Linked DNA regions of Homo sapiens. The protein of the gene in region 2 binds, or shares a complex with, the protein of the main gene of each other region. Links are inferred from orthologs where the notes say so. Each region holds a gene or a part of one and is shown on either strand. Other genes may lie near its edges.

Region 1 (7,000 bases), on a different chromosome or scaffold from region 2:
ACAAACAAACAAAACCTACTTCAGGGTGTTTTCTCCAGCCAGAAAAGATTGGTTTTCATCTTTCATTGTTATATACTTTAAAGTTCCCTTACTGGGCTTTGGACCCTCAGGCTATACATCCCATTTAACTTCTTATCAATATCTAGCTATCTAAAGTCCACGCCTTCTCCATTACTGAGGATAAGAAAAAGATCTGGCCAGGCGTGGTGGCTCACGCCTATAATGCACTCACGCCTATAAGCACTTTGGGAGGCGGGTGGATCATGAGGTCAGGAGATTCAGACCATCCTGGCTAACATGGTGAAACCCCGTCTCTACAAAAAATACAAGAAATTAGCCAGGTGTGGTGGTGGGAGCCTGTAGTCCCAGCTACTCGGGAGGCTAAGGCAAGAGAATCGCTTGAACCCGGGAGGCGGAGCTTGCAGAGATCACGCCACTGCACTCCAGCCTGGGTGACAAAGAGAGACTCCGTCTCACTAAAAAGATGTAAGTCAGTAGAAACCAACAAGAATCCCCAAAGTTGTCTAGTTCAATTTATGCTTCTAATTGCCGATTATCCATTTAGCTGATAAAAATTGAGGTTCTCAGAGGTTCTCAGGGTATAGGAAATATTTAGCTATAGACAGAGCCAGAAGAAGATTCACAATCCCCGGGCAAGTCTTTTCAATGCCTCACACTGGTTTTAAAAGTACAGTAAGGCTGCGCTAAAGCTAGAAATGTTTCCAGGCTTTGATATACACAACCTTAGCCAGGGCTGAAAGCTGGGAAGAAGTGAGTAACATGATGTGGCAGGCATAGGGAATATAGGCTAATTTTCAGCACATAGTAGTAATTGGAGGATTTAGAAAAGGACAAATTAGTCAAAGATTGTTTAATAATTAAAAACAAGCAAAGCTAAGACTTTGCAGGAGCTTAGTAATGAATTCTAAATAGAGTATCTAAAGGTAGGATTATTTAGGCTTCTTAGAAATATGTTCACTATCTGAATATAAAGGAGTTTCTCTTCTGGTGTTGAACTATTGAGCTGTATCTCCTTGTAGGAAGTAAATGAAATCCAGGGGAGTCTTCTTCCTCAGTAAGCAACATTACATTTCTGTCTAATGACTGCATCTTCTGGCCATAGAGAACAAGAAAAAATGAAATGGGCACCTGACCTGGGATTTCCTGGACCGAACAAAGAAGAGATGGCTGAGCCATAAAGCTAAACTATGCACCAGCTAGATGGTACCACGGTATCATGGGTACATTTGATGACAGCCCAGGGACTAGTGCCAAAGAATGCTGAGTAAGAGTGGGAGGTGGGTGTGAAGGCCACAGAAATAACACTCCCCCAGTGGTCATAAGAAAGGGAGCTTCCCTTTTACTTAGGAAGGGTCATTTTAGATTCTGAAGTGACAAGTTAGGAAGTGAAATTGATGTATGAAAACAGCATCAATTTAAAACAGCAGTCAAATAAGAACAAAGGCTTGAAAGGCTGACAAAGACAGTTGAATAGCCAAGGAAAGGCTTGAAGTGAGGGAGTAATTTAGCCGTGATGGACAGTTTGATGGTGAGAGAATGTGAAAGAAAAAAAAACCCTACAATTTAGCAGAAAATACTAGACTGGAAATGAAGAAGTATAGTCCATGAGGGTCAGACAAACAGAATCTTTGGAGCTATATCAATAGACAGTTTCTATGTGATGATGTGTAAAATTGGCCCTAATTCTGTTTGTAAAAAATTACAGTATTTTGCCAGTGTCATCTGCTTTTGCTCACATATTTCAATTGCTAGGGGAAAAATAACAAAAACAATCAAGTATAAAAAGATAAACTTTGCATACATCTCATCACATTCATGCAACGATAGAGCTGAAGACAAACCTATCATATCTAGAAATATGACCAGGCAGAACAGAAGTTATTTTAGCTAGGATTTCATCATTACTCAAAGTAAAATATGATTGTGTAGATGCTTATAGTAATTCATCACTAAGTTTATTTACATTCTAGTAACAAACTATAGAAATGATCCCTGAAAGTATAGTCTTTATTTACATTCTATAAAAAAATTCATGATACATGACTTTCATATAATTTTGAGATTCTACAAAAACACTCCACAGTTCCATAGTATGTGAACTAAGTCATCAGACAGCTCTTCATTAGTTCTTTTTTAATACTCTAGTAACTTAATTGCAAAGTTGTCTTTTCTTTAAGCACCCATGCAGTTGTCATTTGCATTAATGAGTTATACTCTTTCATCTTAATAAGATACGAATTATCGAATTGGACACCGAGTATCCTGTAACATGTAGCTACCTGTCGATCTCCACTATCATAGATACCATCAAATAATGTTTAATGTGACAGCTGCCCAAAAACAGGTAACAAAAATTGTTCCCTTTTTTTTTGGTAGTTGCTCACTTTGCCATGAATCAAATTTTGGCAACTGGTTGTTCCTCCCTGCTGCACCTTCCCAAACTAGTTTAATATCTTCATTTTTCCAAGTCTTGTATGGTAAGTTAATACCCTCTTATAATAAAAGGGCATAATTATATGTTTACAGAATCCCTGGCATTGATCTACAGACTATAAACTGCACTTTTATTCACCAGGGGGAAACAGGTATATTTCTTATTTGATACATGAGAAGACCAACGCAGCTGGACATATCACATATATTCATGCCTTCACCTCTAGGATACTGAGTTGGTGCTTTATATGTAGACCAAGGTCTGTCTAAGAGGAGTTGTGCAAAGTTCTTGTTAAGAGCAGAGTCTTAGCAGCTGGACCACGCTTTTTGCCGTCTATGCACCATGTTAGATTACATTTCCATTGCTCTTCATGGCCCCCTAGACTGGATGGATGCCCAAAGCTACAGGCACTAAGTGTGACCAGCCTGAGGCTCCTCTGGCCCCTTTCCTGAACTGCATCACAGTCACTTGGCAGCATTTGTTAAAAACATACATTCCTGGTCTTCACCAGTCTGAATGAATCTGAATTTCTGGAGGTGGGGCCTAGGAAGTAAGGTTTTTTTGGTGTTTGTTACTATTCTTGACATTTCTGGCCCTTTCTTGTTCAAAATATTTAGGAGTGGGAGAAATGTCAGGAAAGCAGAAGGAACAGTCTAAAAAATCCAAGGGGCTGAGTACCAGGAGCAGCAGCTCTCTGGGCACCCGGCATTGAGGTCAGCCTTGGCTCCACAGCCCCTTGTCACTCCTTACATCTCCATCTGCAGCTCCCTGAGAGCAGAAGAACTTAAACGCTTTAATTCAAATGAGATCTCTTAAAAATAAAGCTTTGATTTTAAATTACATTTGACTATGCCTTTTGCTAGAGCATGTGCCGAAGTTGCAGTCAAGTCTTTCCATGCCATTAATATACTAATAGTTATTAGAATTAAGTATTTTACTATCGACTTTAAATATTTTTCTCAAGAAGAGACAAATGTAATGAGTTGAGAATGGAGACTTAAATAAAGGTAAATAGGATTATTGAAAACTAAAGTGAAATTTGATATCCAGCATCTTTTTATGATTGAAAGAAAAGAGAAGGTGAAGGACTTTAATATCTGAAAGAATAAAATCAGAGTCTAAACCTACATAAGGAAATGTCTATGGAAGTTCCCGATAAAATCATTTAATGGATTTTTTGGGAGGAAAGGGAAATCATGTGTGTGTCTAATGTACTAACACCCAAAAATATTCATGCCCAAAAACTCAAATGCAAACCCTTGTAATGTTTTCTTTCACTTTTATAATAACCTCTGCCCCTCCAGTAAATGTCATTGAGTGAACTCAGTTGTCTATTCCTCCGCACTTAAAACAGCCACCCTTAGCTTGATCTCAGCCATCATCAGTTTGCTAGGTTTCATGTCATTAGCCTGGTCACCCTACTTGCCAACCTATACTCCGAGTAATCAGTCAATCTTGAGAAAACAAACCAACAATCAGCTTGGTTTGATGAGCTCTGCTCCATCCACGCAGCTCACGTCCTCACTTGTTGCAGGTCTCACCTCATCAGCCAACTTTCCTGACCACCAAATATGAAATAGCAACATCCTTTCCCCAGTCCTGTCATTTCCTATTCCCTTTGCCCTGGTTTTTAAAAAATTATTATTTTAATAGACTTTCTCTCTACTTGATATAGTAAATATTTGCCTGATTACTATGTACCTCCTTCCATGAGAAGGATTTATTATTTGTCTTCCTTAACTGGAATGTGAACAATACGAGGGAGTTTGCTTTGTTCACTGCTGTATCCCCAGTGCTTGAAAGAGTAAGAGATGTGGCTCACACCTGTAATTCCAGCACTTTGGGAGGCCGAGGTGGGAGGATCATCTGAGGTCAAGAGTTTGAGATCAGCCTGGCCAACATAGTGAAATCCCATCTCTACTAAAAACACAAAAAAGTAGACCGGGTGCGGTGGCTTAAGCCTGTAGTCCCAGCACTTTGGGAGGCCGAGGCGGGCGGATCACGAGGTTAGGAGATAGAGACCATCCTGGCTAACACAGTGAAACCCCGTCTCTACTAAAAATAAAAAAAATACAAAAAAATTAGCCGGGCGTGGTGGCGGGCACCTGTAGTCCCAGCTACTCGGGAGGCTGAGGCAGGAGAATGGCGTGAACCCGGGAGGCGGAGCTTGCAGTGAGCCGGGATCGCGCCACTGCACTCCAGCCTGGGCGACAGAGCGAGACTCCGTCTCAAAGAAAAAAACGACAAACAACAACAACAACAACAACAACAACAACAAAAAAGTAGCCAGGCGTGGTGGCGGGTGCCTGTAATCCCAGCTACTCTGGAGGCTGAGGCAGGAGAATTGCTTGAACCCGGGAGGCGGAGGCTGCAGTGAGCAGAGATCACACCACTGCACTCCAACCCGGGTGATAGAGTGAAACTCCGTCTCAAAAAAAGAAAAGAAAAGAAAAGAATTAATTAATTGGGGTATAGCTACATGTTAAATGAATTAAATGGGGCTTCCACAAAAAATAGAAAGATACTGTGCAAAAAAAAAAAAAAAGTTTGTTTTTTTCTGTCTCTTTGGGATTCTCTTAATTGTAGTTATATCTCAAATTTCTAAAGTTTCAAATTAATTAAAAAGGAAACTTCACAGTAAAAAACTATTGTCATCATCTCATTCTCATACTGTTAAATTTTCAAGTGACAATTGCTGAAACAGAGAACTGTTTGTTGAAACAACATGCTTCAAATGATTCCTGAGCAGGCAAAAGAGCTAAATTAAGAAAAAAGGCTCTTTGCAACCCCCACTGCTAAATTTGACAGGCTTAAAAGAAAAAAGAAAAAAGGCTTTTTAACAAAGAGCTTCCTGAATTTGTTAAATGAGATCCTAATGAGGGTTAGGATTCTTGTAGAACTGCATCAGGTATCATGCTTGTACATTCAGTTCACTGTTAGGTTGTTGCAGGTTAAGATTTAAAACACAAAACAAAAAAAAAAAGGAAAAAACACAACTGTGTGGTTGTCCCCTAGTTCTACGATGTTCTAACTCCGATTGCACCACACAATTTTATTGTAGACAAGGACACTATTACAAGAAGAAATAGCCTGTTTAAAATCGTGTTTATTTCAAGAATGATAAATATCGGGGAAGGCTAGGGCTCTGAAGGGGAAGAGCAGCAGTTGATATTAACCCTGGTTAATGTAACATCTTTACAGTCTGAGTCTATGCAGGCACTAAAGTGATTAGATTCAAGTACCATGGAAAAGATTCCCAGTTCATCAGATAATACCCAACCTTTACTTCCTTATTTATACCTAGATGGCCTAACTATAGTGTATCAAACTTACTGTATGTAAAAATATATTTATAAATAATTGCACATTTGTGTAGGTATTTGATGTTGTGAACTGCTTATTTTGGGGGCAGAGGGGAGGACAACATAAAAACACCAACAAGCCTTCCTTCCCCAGCTCTTACCCCTCCTCATCACTGAACTTACATTAGCATCCACTTAATGAGATGAGATGGGAATTGAGGTGTGAGGAACTCCATCCAAAGAGAGGATGGTGCATCCCATAAAAGACAATCCTCTCCCTAGTTCAACAGCTACTACTCAATTCTCCCCCAAAACAAGTTTCTCAAGATCAATTTAGGGCTACCAGAGAGAAAATCCCAAGTCAGAAGCTGAGGCTAAAAGCCATGTTCTTCAATTGTGATGTAACTTAATATATTTCTATCAGTCCTTGGCGTTTCCTCTGCCCCTACTCTTACTTCCACCTCCAAATTGACTATTTTTAGTGAATAGCCTTGTTATTTTATAATCATATAAAGACACCCTTAGGGCCCTCACAAGTGTATTGATTAAGATAGTCTATTTTTTTCAATGAGAATTTAATAAATAACTCATGCATGTGATGCTCTTAGTAACAGCTCAGTAAAGTTTGGTTCTTACTCTTTAGACGACCTTTAGATATAGCTCATTTGGTTTTAAATTTTTCATCTTTTCTTTAGCAAAACAGCAACTAAGAAATGATTGACAAACATACATTTTCTTTTTAAAATTTTTTTTTATAGAGGTGGGGTCTTGCTATGTTGCTCAGGCTGGTTTTAAACTCCTGGCCCCAAGCGATCCTCCCACCTCAGCCTCTCAAAGGGCTAGGATTACAGGCATGAGCCATCATGCCCAGCTGACGATAAACATATATTTTTCTTAAAATATTATTTTAAAAGCATAGGGAAATTGGAATGTGAAATTTATGAAATTGTATAAGCCACTGATGTATTAAAAAAAAAGAGCTAACCACAGTTTGAAAATAGGTAAAAGACAATCTGTACATACATAGTTAAAAGGTGACTTTAGATGGAGGTTTAGACAATTATGCTAAGAATTTAAAAAATATATACATTAATCTCCCATGGAAGAGATGCTCTGGAGATTTTTTAAAACTTGAATTATCCATACAGAATATTACATTAATAATAAACACTAGATAATTACTTTTTCTCTCCAGAGTTGAACTGGTGTGTGCGGATAAGCTCCCACACATCTCTTCAAATAA
Region 2 (7,706 bases):
TTACCAGATACTGGAATACTTTCGCAGAAAATTTAGATGTTTACATGACTGTGCTTATCAGCAGAAAAAGCCAAAGAAACAAAACAATATGCTCCACCTCATTTCCACTCTGCAAATCTCAAGTAAGTGCACTTAACTGGGGAGCCTACTTTGGATCCAGTCCATTAATTTCAATGGAGTGTGGGAAACAGTGTTTAGTTTTCCCACCTCCATATCACAGGGAGGTGCATGGGAAGGAGGTGGGAAGTGATGCTCAATTCCAGTCCCCGCATCCACCACACTGCTCTCCAATAAAGATCAGTGCATGTTATTCTCTACTGTGAATCTCAAGTGACCAGAGCAAATCTGGTATAAATTATACTACACTTCCTCCTTTGTTTGTTAACACTTTAAAGGTAAAATCCTGCACATGCAGCCAGGGTGATCTCTTACTATAAGTCACTTATATGTGGAAGAAGAGCCAAAACTCACTGAAAAGTGAGAGAAAGGTATTATGATCTACATTTTAGCATACTTCAGTGCTAATATGCTCAGACACTGACTCAGCGACTATTCACTATATACTGATTAAATTACAATTCTTTCACTATCTTCTATCCCATTTCAAATTATTTTTCTCCCTGTTTTAGTTTCAAATTTAAAATAAGAATCCTCTCCTTTTGTTGTAATGAAAAAGCACTTTACTTTTAATCAACAGCAGAGGGCTGCCTATTTCCAGACTAGTCTGTGAGTTTTAGAAGTGACATAGCTGCAATGCTTTCTTCCTTTAACAAAAGGGGTGTTTGGGGGTGGGGAGGATGGGGGAGTGTGGTTTCAATCCTTCTTTTACTTTTGTGATAGACCAGAAAATAAATGGCAAATGATAGTGGAGAGGGCAACCTCCACAAGAAAAAAAGTGACTTTTATCTTTCCCTCAGTCCGAGGCTGAGACTGTCTTTTTTCCCTCTCTATCCCTGGTGCCTAGCACAATGCATGGTACAGAGCAAACAGTAAATGAATGTCTGTTGAATGAATAATCCAATTACAATGGAAGAAGTGGAAGACTCTTCATCATCATGTCTCTTATCTTCCTATCTCACTCCCTTCCTCAATGTGGACAAAATAGAGCGGGGACAGAAGCAAATTAGAGTCATGGAACTGACAGCCAGAACTCCCAGAATGTGAATGGGATAGGCCACAGTCCATGAAACTTCCTAGAAGTACAAATCCTTCAGCAAGTTCAGGAAATCCACATTTCAAAGGGTGGAGTTTCTGGCCTTTGGCCCCAGTTCCTTACCGACCACCCATTAACTGCCACAATTAGTTTTATTTCAGCTGGGCAGAGGGGTGATGATTGAAAACAGAGAAATTACTAAAGTAGATAATTAAAAACACTGATCATGTACCAAGAGGGAGAAAACAGATGGTGAATGATACCTTTGGCACTATTTTCTTTAAGATCAACTGGCTCTGCTGGAAGGCGGTGAGATGAGAAATCTGCAATTAGCAGGGCCTACCTGTGAATATAGCAGGGAAAGAAAGTCCAAGGTCAGCCTGATTGGGTTGGACACCACCTTGAAGTCAACTGCACTGGGCAGTCTACGTAGCAAGCAGGGAAATCTGACTGATAAGAAAGCGACCACAGGTGAAGTGCTGTATTATCTTCTGATCTCGTCTACAGAATAAAGGTGCCATTAGCTAGAATGATATCTTTAGCTGTAACACATTGACTATTGTTTCTGAGGGACTATGAGCCGCCACCATTTGTCCATCATCACTTTATTTCTCTTCTGGCAGCAATAGCTAGGAAATTAAATTCTAATCGCATCACGTAAGCATTCTCAAAATATCCTGAAATAACTGCATTAACAAATTGCCCACCCTTTATAAACAAAGAACTCTCAAGAGAAGTGTAAAATGTTTGACGACACCAAGGTACTAAGAGAAGGAACTATACAACTTAAATATTACAATACTTAAGCAAGCAGTATAAATTAGGTTGATGGATTTTCAGTTAACTGGGTCTCATCTTGATAAAAGGTACATGTGGCAGCTTAGTCAGCCAACAAGAAAGCAAAAAACTTGATTTTTTTCACTCGGAACCAGTCACTGTTAGACTACATGCAGCCTTTTCATCTCCCACCCATTTGCATTTTTGAGACAATCTCCAAGAACACACAGAAGCCACATATCATTTACGACGGAACAACCTTTCCAAATGGTCGTACAATATTTTTAATAAGCATAGGCATAATCAGCATTAGTTATTTAGCTGAAAAGAAACAGCTTTGCCTTCTTCAAATCCCAGAGCTTAATCTAGTTTTCAAAGGGAACAGATGTGGTAACTTCTTTATAAAGTATTTATACTTTTTTGGCTTCACTTTTTAACATCAACGACGACCGGTGAAATAAAGCATGAACTTCTCACACTAGACACTTGTTGCTAAAGAGGAGGAGGAAAATTTATGTTCCTGCTCTCCCATCCCTGTCTCTAGTTAGGGGATTAAAAAGGATTTCAGATAAAGAAGAAAAAAACAAACCAGCGAATGACAATTCACTTGGAACTCTCCAGACCGAAGTCCGTAAAGTTAAGTCGGCCCGGCCTCCGCCAGAGCAAGCAAATCAACAGCGGGGATGCTGCGACCGTCTCCCAACGCCTGGGAGCTCCGCACACCCGGCGGGGGTGGCAGGAAGGGGCTGGCGCGGTGATGTGGGTCCCCCGCCGACCGCCTAGCCCCCTCCTCAACACTTCCTGAAGGAAACTGACAAGTAAGGCGGCGGCCGCTCCGGGAAGGGGCGGGTGTGGACCCGACAAGCTTGCTCCCTCCAGCGAGCCCCCAGCGCCCGCGCGCCGAGCCGCCCCCACAGTCCCCGCGGCGCCTCGCGCGCTCCCCAGGCTCGCGCCGAGGGAGGAGGGGCTGACAGCAGAGCCTCCGGTCGTGGCCGCCGCCGCTACCTCCCCGGGTCCGGCTGCTGAATAACCCGAAGGGAAGCCCGCCCCGCAGCCCCGCGGTCCCCGCACCTCGTCCTCCAGGAGCCCGAACACCTCCACCGCGCAAGTTGCCATTTCCGAACGCTTCCAGCAAACCGGACGCGCTCGCCCCCGCCCAGGGCAGGCAACTGTGGAGGAGGAGGAGGAGAAGCGGGAGGAGGCGGGGAAGAGTTGGAGGAAGAGGAGGAGGCGCTCCCTCAGCGACAGCAGCGCCTCCCGCGGCGAGCGGGCACTAGCGGCACCCGGCAGCGCGGCGGGAAAAGGCCGGCGGCGCGCGCTCCTGGGGCTGGGCGGGGGCGCGCGTGGCGGGGCTCGGGGAGTGGGGAGGGCGTGCGGCGGGGCTCGGGTGGGATGAGCGCGCGCGGCGGGGACCATGGCGTGGGGAGCGCGCGTGGCGGGGCGCGCCCTCGGTCCCTTCCCGGGAGGTGGGTGGTTGACGGGCCCGCCGGGGAGCCAGGGAGCGCCGGGAAGCGCCGGGAAGCCAAGCTGCAGTGTTCCTCAGCAACAAGTCTCGCTGAGATCCGACCCAGAGTTCGGCCTCTGACTAGACGCCTGGGAATCCGTGAGCTTAATCCCCGCTTAAATCCCAAACGGAAAATCATAGCGCTTTCTTGTCGGTTAAGGGTGTCATTCCCATAAGAAGCTGGACCTGGGGACCGCCAGGGAAAGCCTGAGCGTGGCAGCAAATGGGGAGGCCTGGAGGGATCGCAGCAGTCTTGGACTCGGGATCTGAAATTCTCTCCCTAGGATTTGTAAACAGTGCCAGTTCCTAAGCTATTTGTTGTCCTATGGTCTGTCCATCTTTAAATCCCACCAGTAACAATCCAATCTCCAGGCTGACCCTCTAAACCTGCTTTAGCTGGGCGTTGATCCGCAGCACCACCAGAAGGCAGTGACGAAGAGGGAAAAATAAAGTGAACTAGGACCTCCTGTAGAATAACTCCTCCTGTGGAATAACTCCTCCTGTGGAATAAGGTTATGGAATAATCATGCTTTTTAATATTCCTGTCTGATGGGCTTTATAATTCCATAATTACAGGAAGACCTCCACCAAATAAGGCATCCATAAAAGAGTCTGGGGAGAATTATGAACACCCAGGCCACAATTTATATCATGTTGTTTTTATACATTTGCAGAAATTTGCAGAATTCTGCAATCTCAAAATCTAATTTTTATTTTCCTCAATGATTTCAGAATAACTCTGATTTATTTTTAACAGTTTAAGATGCTACGTGGGAACAAGGCTATAGCCCATATTACTGGTTTGTTACGTAAGATTTTTCTCGTACTTGGCCGGGCGCGGTGGCTCACGCCTGTAATCCCAGCACTTTGGGAAACCTAAGGCGGTGAATCACCTTAGGTCAGGAGTTCGAGCCCAACCTGGCCAACATAGTAAAACCCTGTCTCTACTAAAAACACAAAAATTAGCTGGGCGTGGTGGCGGGCGCCTGGAGTCCCAGCTGCTTGGGTGGCTGAGGCAAGGGAATCGCTTGAGCTTGGGAGGAGGAGGTTACAGTGAGCCAAGATTGCGCCGTTGCACTCCAGCCTGGGCGACAGAACAAGACTCCACCTCAATTGTCGTACTTTATGATTGGTAGGATCCATTTCATTCATATAATATGTATCAAAATTCTGTTAATACACAATTCAGATTTTATCCGTATTAGGGGGAAAGAGATGGCACTTAATCAAACATGACTACAAAATTACAGAATGGTCAGGAATTGTTGGCTTACCTAAATCGAAAAAGCCATGAGAGCATTAATTTGTTTTTTAAGTTGTCACATATCTGTGGGATTTGTGGGTTAAGAATAAAATAATCTGAAAATATTGTGTGCCCTTCTATTTTGCGAATATTTCCCTCATCTCTCATGATACACATTTTTATGTTTAATTTTAAGTTAGTTAAGTCATTTGAATTTAAGTTAATTCAGTGTCATTTCAGGGCACAATTACAAACGTGTAAAAACAGCTTCCGTTACTGCTACTAAAATTTAATGAATATATGAGAAGTATACACAGCCTAAAACTGGTAATTAAAAAAAAAAAAATCAGTAAATCCCCAAGGGATTATAAAGTAAAGCAAATTGGCCATTTGATGTATCCAATAGGTATTAGTGATGATACTTCTAAAGACCACTGATTTGACTCATGATTTCTTATTCTGTCTTTCCGAATATGAAATCATGAAGAATTAAACAGCTACCAATACAAGATGAACTAGAGTAATTATTGTATCCCGGTCAACAGCTAGGAGGGGCACCTGAAATTAAAGGAAGCTCAAATCGGGATGGTGATATCAGCTGGTGGTCCAATAACCAACCACCACTGAGAAAGCTGTTTAGAATGAAGAACTCCTCTACATATCACTCAACTGCGCAGAACTCTCATGAAGGCGTTTTGTCTACCTAGGCTGCCTTCAATTAGGTTCATGTTGATTTGGTTTGAGTGTGTGTATAACCATGTGAGGCACGTGTGAAGAATGTGACATGGTGCATAACAATTGATTCTGTGCCTCATACCTGTGCTAGGGATCATCCCAAGCCAAAATCCAGGCAATTCTAGCAACCTCCAATAGCATCACCCCTTCTATCTCTTGTTCTTGAGTCTTTTCTCCCTTCAAATCTGCCTTTACATGAGCCTCCAAACTGATTAAGAAGCAAGAAATGAATGAAAACCAGTAAACCTGGTCTAGACTTTCTAGTAGTCTGTATACGTAAACCTCTTTAACTCTGCCTATAGATTTCACTGTGATGCAGAAATTGTTTCTAGTTTTTAAAATATCACCCCCTGGGATCAAAATTGGATGTGGAATGTAACAATATGAAAGGTAATGATACGAAATGCACTTTAATGTTGGTAATTAATTCCCTAAGGGATATAAAAAAGTCTTGTTCAGAAGTTCTCCTTTAATTCTCTCTTACTCTTAATATCCCCTGGCTGCTTCCTTTCTAATAGTTAATGTTTGAGATTTTTAAGGTTCATTTTTTCTTCCACTGGAAACTCCCTGGACCTCATCCATTGCCATTGCCATTACCATAGTTTCAGCTACTTTCTTCATAGAGCCCATCTCAGATCCAGAGCTCAGTAGTGCAAGAAATGTTTATTTGATTTTCTGAAATGAACTAAGTTTCTGCCTCCAGTAGTAGAATACATAGTCCCAATCAATTCATTGGTCTTGCCTGACCCTCTTTTTGCTAAGCTGGATTCTGACTTCTAACAGGCTGTTGTGCTCCCTCATCTTGGTGATAAAGGTTCTCATCACTCCCTCCTGGAATTAGTAGATGTATCTGTGTTCCCGCTGGCCTCTAGCTGTGGACATCTTTATCAAGTAGAATTACATTTGGCTGTTACCTAAACTAATAAGATTTAAAGATTCATGTTATATGGCTGTCATGTAAAAGTCTAGACAGTGGGCAGGGCAGGGTTAATATGGCTAGTTTGCTCTGCCAAAGGGTCAGAAATTCAGGCACTTCACAGCTCACTGCTCTGATGTTTGTAGGTGTGACCCTTATCCTCATAGTCCAGAGAGTGGCTCAAGCTTCAATCATTACGTCTATGTTCCAGGTTACAAGGCAGAGGAAGGAGTAAAGAAGAGAGTTCAGGTATCATGGTCATCTTTTAAAATGCCCTCCTCACCCCACAAGGGGTGGGAGGTAGTGAGAAAGACGGCCAGGTGCAAGGCAGTGGGACCCAGGTGTGTTCAAGGAAGGGTTTGCTTGGTGGACTGGTGATGGCAGAAATGGGAAATTAGTTACTTGTAGAGACAAGTGATCCAATAAGTGAATATATGAATGATAATGAGAACCACATTAGTCACTGTTGAAGAAGTTACAAGAATGGAAAGAGAAAACTTGAATGAGTCTTGTGTTGTTATAATGAAATTGGTGGTGTTGATATGAACTCAAAAGTTTTTAACATATATATATAGTATATAAATAAATGTAGATGTAAACCTCTGCTGCATACACACACACACACACACACACACACACACACACACAAATATTTTCTACATTTGTATTCTAAGAGGGCCTGGGAACAATGACACCCCAAAAGCAATGAGCATATCTTGCATCCATATTTTAACTTTTTACTAAAAGAAACCAGGGCTCCTTGGAAAAATGGCTGATTCCAGGACTAGGACAAGGCAAATAAAAGTTGAGCCTGAAACATCTTGTTATCCCAGAAAATAATGAAAGTAATGATGGAGACAGAATAAAAGGACACAGGAACCAACCTGAAAAAAGCTCCCACTGGCCAAAGATGGCCTAACTTGAGCACTAAAATAAATTATGATAGCAACAGATTATAATCCAATGAATAATTCTGGTACCATGTGTTCATTACAGATATAAATTATAATAAATGAGTACATTCAAAGTTCAATGAAAAATGAGATTTTTACAGGGTTCAACATATATTTCCAGAAAGTACTTAGTTACATAGATTAAAAGGCTGAAATATACCACCTTAATCAAATGATCAAAGTGAACATTTGATAAACCAAAATCTTGCAACCCATTGCTTTTCCTCCATAACTTGGATCTAATCATGAGAAAACAAATCCAATTTAAGGAACGTACTACAAAATATCTGCCCTGTAATCTTCAAAAGTGTCAAGGACATAGAAGTCAAGAAAGTTGGAGGAACTGTTCCAGACTGACAGATTAAAGACCCTGTATTATGGTTCCCTAGAGAAACAGAACCAATAGGATGCAGATATATAAAGAG
Region 3 (5,187 bases), on a different chromosome or scaffold from region 2:
GGCAGGAGGATTGCTTGAACCTGGGAAGTCAAGGCTGAAGTGGGCCGAGATCCTGCCACTACACTGCAGCCTGGGTGACAAAGTGAGACACTCTCTTAAAAAAAAAAAAAACTATGTTATGTTTATGTACTCTTGAAATACTGGTAATTTGAACACAACACAGTGAGAAGGAATTGGTGCCTGAAAGTGAATTATTTTACCTGGTTAAGTTTGCTTCATATTTAAGATTGAAATTTAGAGTCTGGACATGGTGTCTCACGCCTGTAATCCCAGTGCTTTGTGAAGCCAAGTTGGGAGGATCGCTTGAGGCCCGAGTTTGAGATCAGCTTGGGTAACATAGTGAGACCACGACTACAAAAAAATTAGAAAATTAGGTGGGTGTGGTGGTGTGCACCTGTAGTCCTAGCTACTTCGGAGGTTGAGACAGGAGGACTACTTTAGCCTAGGAGTTGGTCAGTAATTTTCTTTAGTACAGACCTAGATACAATTCTTACCCAGAATGGCTTAAAATAGAGTTTAATAGTTTAATTTAATGTGTTTGCATGTATGGTGAGTTACTAATATGATCAAGATTCAAATAAATCTCCAAACAATTATACAAAACAGAAAAAAACAAAACACTTTATTTTCCACAAGGAAGAGCAATAGGAAAAATTAAATCATTTCCCACATATTGTTTTCTTAAAACAGAGCCTACAAGGACATATTCAGCACCAAATAAAAAAGGAAAAAAAGAGAAATTACAAACAGCCATAGAATATAATCTATAAAGCAAACATTTAATATTGCACTTTGTTTTGCTAACATTTTGGATTTTACTTTTCCTAATTGAAAAATCAGGAATCTATCTTGAATACTGGAATACAACTGTGAACCTCACATCTTATGTCAGGAATTGACCAATATTTTTAAAAAAGTAATGCCTCTAAAGAAATACATTTTAAAGGGGAAAATAAAACTTTATTTGATAAAGTTTTATACATTTAAAGTTTTATCACATTTTGTGATCCAGTGCCAATTATCAGAATATTGGTCATTCTTGCTTCATGTGTTATTTGTAAGAGTATATAATGACAAGTATTCCAATGCTATGCATATCAACAATTGTTCCCTAGTCAGTTAGACGTAAGAGAGAAAAGGGATTTTCTGACAATCCCCCTCAAACAAAAATAAAACCACCAAATGCCCTTTATGCCAAATATTCCATTAGCTTTTTTTGAGGGGGACATTCACAAAATGATTCAACAATAAAAAAATATTTCACCCCCATTTCCTTATTATCTAGTATTAGTTTGCTACGGGAGCCCAAACTCTTTAACCGAATCACTTAAAACGCGATTCATTTTTACACTGGGCTTTCTTCACCCTGTCAGCATTTGTCAAACATGAATTGTCTTCCATGTTTTCTTAAAGGCCACTTATGGAAAAGCCTATTTGTTTTGTATGAGCTTTAAGACAGTATTTAACCAGGTCAAGCACCAAGCCAGAGCTACTATTATTTTCAGCCACTTTATTAACTGTGGGGTTAAATGGCAGGATAGATGTAACACCCATTTTACACGTATGTTGCAACATCAGAGATGCTGGTTTTCTTTAAAAACATCAGAGCTGAATTCCTTCTAAAATACAACAACAACAACAACAACAAAATAAGTACACTTGGTACCTTGGAAAATGCTGAAATGCTATCATGAATGCTGGTATATTTGTTATGAGCCAACAGAAAATTACCTTTAATATAAACTATAACTTACTGATGTGATTGTTCTTCCTATGTAATCTATACATAATCAAAGTGAGTGATTTCTCATGTTTAGCAAATTGTTCTTTAGGTAATGAAAAACAGTATTCTCATTAGAAAAACACAAAAATCCAAAAGATTTATCGCAGCAAACGTTCTAGTATTTTAAATTTTGAAGTTACTTTTGGAATAAAGTCGAGTTTTCATGCCATACCAAGCTTGAGCAAGACAGCAAAGGTACAAATTGAGCTCTCTATTCATAACCTCAATGTATGTATTCCTGCTCATTAATATACTTTGCACCAGCAAAAGCGATTTCCAACATATGTGTTTTGGAGGTAATTAAGTAACTCTGTATAAAAATAAATGCACTTTTCCCTCCTTTCCCCAGTGAATGGAAAACTTCCATACTTTCAAAATAATAATAAAAAAAATAATTTTTAAGAGCAACAGCCCTCAACTCTTTGCTGGTGCCTGCCATACTGCCTTTCTTCACTCCATTCTTAGCTCTGCTAGTTTCTTCTTGTATGTCATGATAAAAAGGGAATGTGGGTGTGTAACTTTTGTGTATGTCCCGTTTCCAAATTTCCCTCTCCAAAAAGCCAACCAAATAAACAAACAAACAAACGAAAAAAACAGTGCAACAAAACACAAATAGCATTCCAACAGTTTGGCAAGTGATGCGTTCACCTGAGATTAAGTGATTTTAGGCAGTCAGTAACAAAATGCTGCTTTGCTGTAATAGTAGAAAGGCAACAAATTCTTAAAAGAAACCAAGAAGGTATACAATCTTGACAGTCTCTTATTAGCTTCCTCCTCTTATCTCTTTTTTTCCCACATTATCTGTTGCGTATCTACTACAGTAGGCTGCAAAACATACAGCAAAAAGGATTGGCTTGAAGGCATTTGATGTTTGTAAATAAATCCACAATTGGATCCAAGCTGAAGAGGTGATACATAGTCAGCCTAGTAGACAATTCTGAGCATGTGCATACGCAGGTAAAGTCCAGGCTATATTAAATAAAAAAAAATGTCAGTGCGTTTTTTCATGTTAAAGTTTTTTCAAAGCTTTGTTTTGTTCCTTGTTGTGCTGACCACAAACAAGTTTTAAGAGTATCAAGAGTCTGGCAAAAATAGAAAAAAAAAAAAAAAAAAAAAGAAGCTGTAGTGACGTCGAACCGCACAATGTAAGCATTGAGCATGTGCAAATTTTCAAATCAAAAGAAGGAAATCATCCCTCTTTACAACGTGATGTCTTGACACGTACGACCATAGGCTAAGAAGACTGCTCTGAGTATGTGCCAGTTTTAAAAGAGAAAAGCTTAGATCTTCAAGCATGTTGGAGCAGTCTCAGAATGTTGCTGTAGGCTTCTAAAGCATGATCACTGGTTGTTTCATGTATTCGCCATTTTTCTGGGCAAAAGTAATTCCACTTCCTCTGAAACGTGTCTCCAAGATACTTCTCTGTCCTCAGCCGGAAGAGATACAGTTCGGAACCCACATCAACTTGATTCAACCAAGTGTTCCTTCAACGAGAGGGGCAGGATGGTCTATCATCTGCTGACTGATCAGGATTTGGATCAATCTAGAAAGAAATGAGAAAAAAAGTTTACAGAGTTATTTCATGAGGTCTAGGAAGAATGTAGCAAATGACTACAATTCTGAATACTAGTCAAGAAATGTAATCAGAGAGCAAACACAGCTTGTTAGCATATTATATCCAATTATTCTCTTTTCATACGTGAAATGCTATGTGGGGAGGAAAGGGTGTTGGTACCTACAGTACCTGATATTTAATTACTAGATTAACAAGCTTTATAAAGGCATGTCTGAATAGTCCCCTATTTCACAAAAATTAACAGTAAAATTTTATCAGTGAATGAAGACTTTTACTCAGTACTTTAGTAGTACTTAATTAAGACCTAAATACACAACGTAGAATATCTTCATAGCAATCATCTTCTTTTGTAAAGCACCCCTTTCATCCTTCTACAAAAAAGTTAACTCATCGCTTCCTCTGACTTTGGAAAAATGAAATCGTATAAACAATGCTCTTTGTTTATACAATGTGCAAACAATTTGTTTACTCACATGAACAATGTGCTTATGTGAGGTAATAACTCATGGGTGTAAAATCCCACAGAGGGCCAAAAACGCAGTGTATCAGGAAATAAAACTGCTGAACCCAAAACACTCAAGAGGTTTCCTCCCACCTTCTTTATCTTCAGAGTGACTTTTATATGCACATATTTTTAATGAAAAGTTGCTTCTCAAGTACAAAGAGAATGGTCATAGAAAAGCAAATTGTTGGGTTTAATATATTTTTTACTGAAAGAGCTTTTGGACGAGACCCCATCCACTTGCATCTAAATGTGGAACAACCCAAATTGCCTCAGAAGCTTTAGGTAAAACACATTTTTGAAGGAAAAAAGCCAAATAACTTTTAGTTAAATCACACCCTGAACATATTTTAGGGTTTTAAAAGTTGTAAATTATCTTTAGTGCTTTTTAAAAGGAGGCAGAATTTTCCCACAAATTGCTTAAAAGTGAACTATACTTAGATTGTCATTCTTTTTAAAATGCCTCCTTGGACAGCCAGGAAGCCTCAAATCAAGCCAGAAATGACTGACTTAATAAGCAAGACAGAAATGTCCAAGTAAAAATGTAATGACAAAATCTGTAACAAGTGGCAGAACACTTTTAGCATCTAATAGAAATTGTATGTATTAGAAAATAAATAGAAAAAATTATGTCTCATCAATAATTCTGAATATTCTATAATCAATGAATGAAGAAGATCTCATATCATCACAACCAAAGGAAAACTGACCCTTCCAGTTATGGTGTTAATAAAAAAAAAGAGAAATATGATGAACAATCCCCTAATGTTTAATTTGGGAGTAATATTTCAGAGTAAAACAGCTATGTAAATTACAGTAACCAAAAGAAAAAGCTGATTCTAGTAATTTACAGAATTATTTTGGTATCAAAACCAACTCCAAAACCCCTTAAAAATGTGTACTAGTGGCTAAAGTCACTCTGAAATATCCTGAAATTACTGGACACCCCACCTACTCACTCCTTGTCTTTACATACACTGTTCTTCCTGCCTTTTGAGGACTACTCATTCTTCAAAATTCAGCTTAATAGTCACCTTTTCAAGAAGCCCCACCTGATGCCCAAGACCTAATAAGCTGCTTCTCAAATGAGCTGTGCATTTTATCACATTATTACATAATATTTTGCTTCTTAGCTTGTTTTCCTCAGTAATCTGTGGGTTTCTCCTAAGGGCCATGTTTTATTTACATTTAAGTGCTTAGCTGCCATCAATATGAGATGAACGAAAATAGTCTAACCATGTGGGAATGTTGTTTTAAGATGTTATCACAAATACATTATTTCTTATGACTGAGAATGTCAAAATATGCAATTGGAAAAGCATCATG

The links. Proteins that work in one complex are often made in the same cells at the same time.
Region 1: the proteins of NEDD4 (region 2) and GJA1 are in contact, whole or in part, in an NMR structure (PDB 2N8T), measured with the Rattus norvegicus proteins. The link is inferred for Homo sapiens from one-to-one orthologs. Residues at the interface, in NP_037118.1 of Rattus norvegicus: Asp416, Asp417, Tyr422, Val424, Asp425, His426, Ser428, Lys429, Thr430, Thr431, Thr432, Trp433; in NP_036699.1 of Rattus norvegicus: Pro277, Leu278, Ser279, Pro280, Met281, Ser282, Pro283, Pro284, Gly285, Tyr286.
Region 3: the proteins of NEDD4 (region 2) and ARRDC3 are in contact, whole or in part, in a crystal structure (PDB 4N7H), measured with the Homo sapiens proteins. Residues at the interface, in NP_001271267.1 of Homo sapiens: Glu847, Arg849, Ala851, Pro852, Phe857, Ile859, Asp860, His861, Lys864, Thr865, Thr866, Thr867, Trp868; in NP_065852.1 of Homo sapiens: Glu344, Ala345, Pro346, Pro347, Ser348, Tyr349, Val352.

What each region holds. Positions count from the first base shown.
Region 1 is NC_000006.12:121,438,646-121,445,645, reverse strand, and holds part of GJA1 (gap junction alpha-1 protein), read right to left. Parts: intron 2,030-7,000; exon of another isoform or gene 1,953-2,029; intron 1-1,952. UniProt on the Homo sapiens protein: Gap junction protein that acts as a regulator of bladder capacity. A gap junction consists of a cluster of closely packed pairs of transmembrane channels, the connexons, through which materials of low MW diffuse from one cell to a neighboring cell.
Region 2 is NC_000015.10:55,990,510-55,998,215, forward strand, and holds the start of NEDD4 (E3 ubiquitin-protein ligase NEDD4), read right to left. Parts: upstream 3,104-7,706; 5' UTR 3,047-3,103; coding exon 3,002-3,046; intron 1,497-3,001; exon of another isoform or gene 1,417-1,496; intron 1-1,416. UniProt on the Homo sapiens protein: E3 ubiquitin-protein ligase which accepts ubiquitin from an E2 ubiquitin-conjugating enzyme in the form of a thioester and then directly transfers the ubiquitin to targeted substrates. Specifically ubiquitinates 'Lys-63' in target proteins.
Region 3 is NC_000005.10:91,368,131-91,373,317, forward strand, and holds the end of ARRDC3 (arrestin domain-containing protein 3), read right to left. Parts: intron 3,327-5,187; coding exon 3,270-3,326; 3' UTR 501-3,269; downstream 1-500. UniProt on the Homo sapiens protein: Adapter protein that plays a role in regulating cell-surface expression of adrenergic receptors and probably also other G protein-coupled receptors.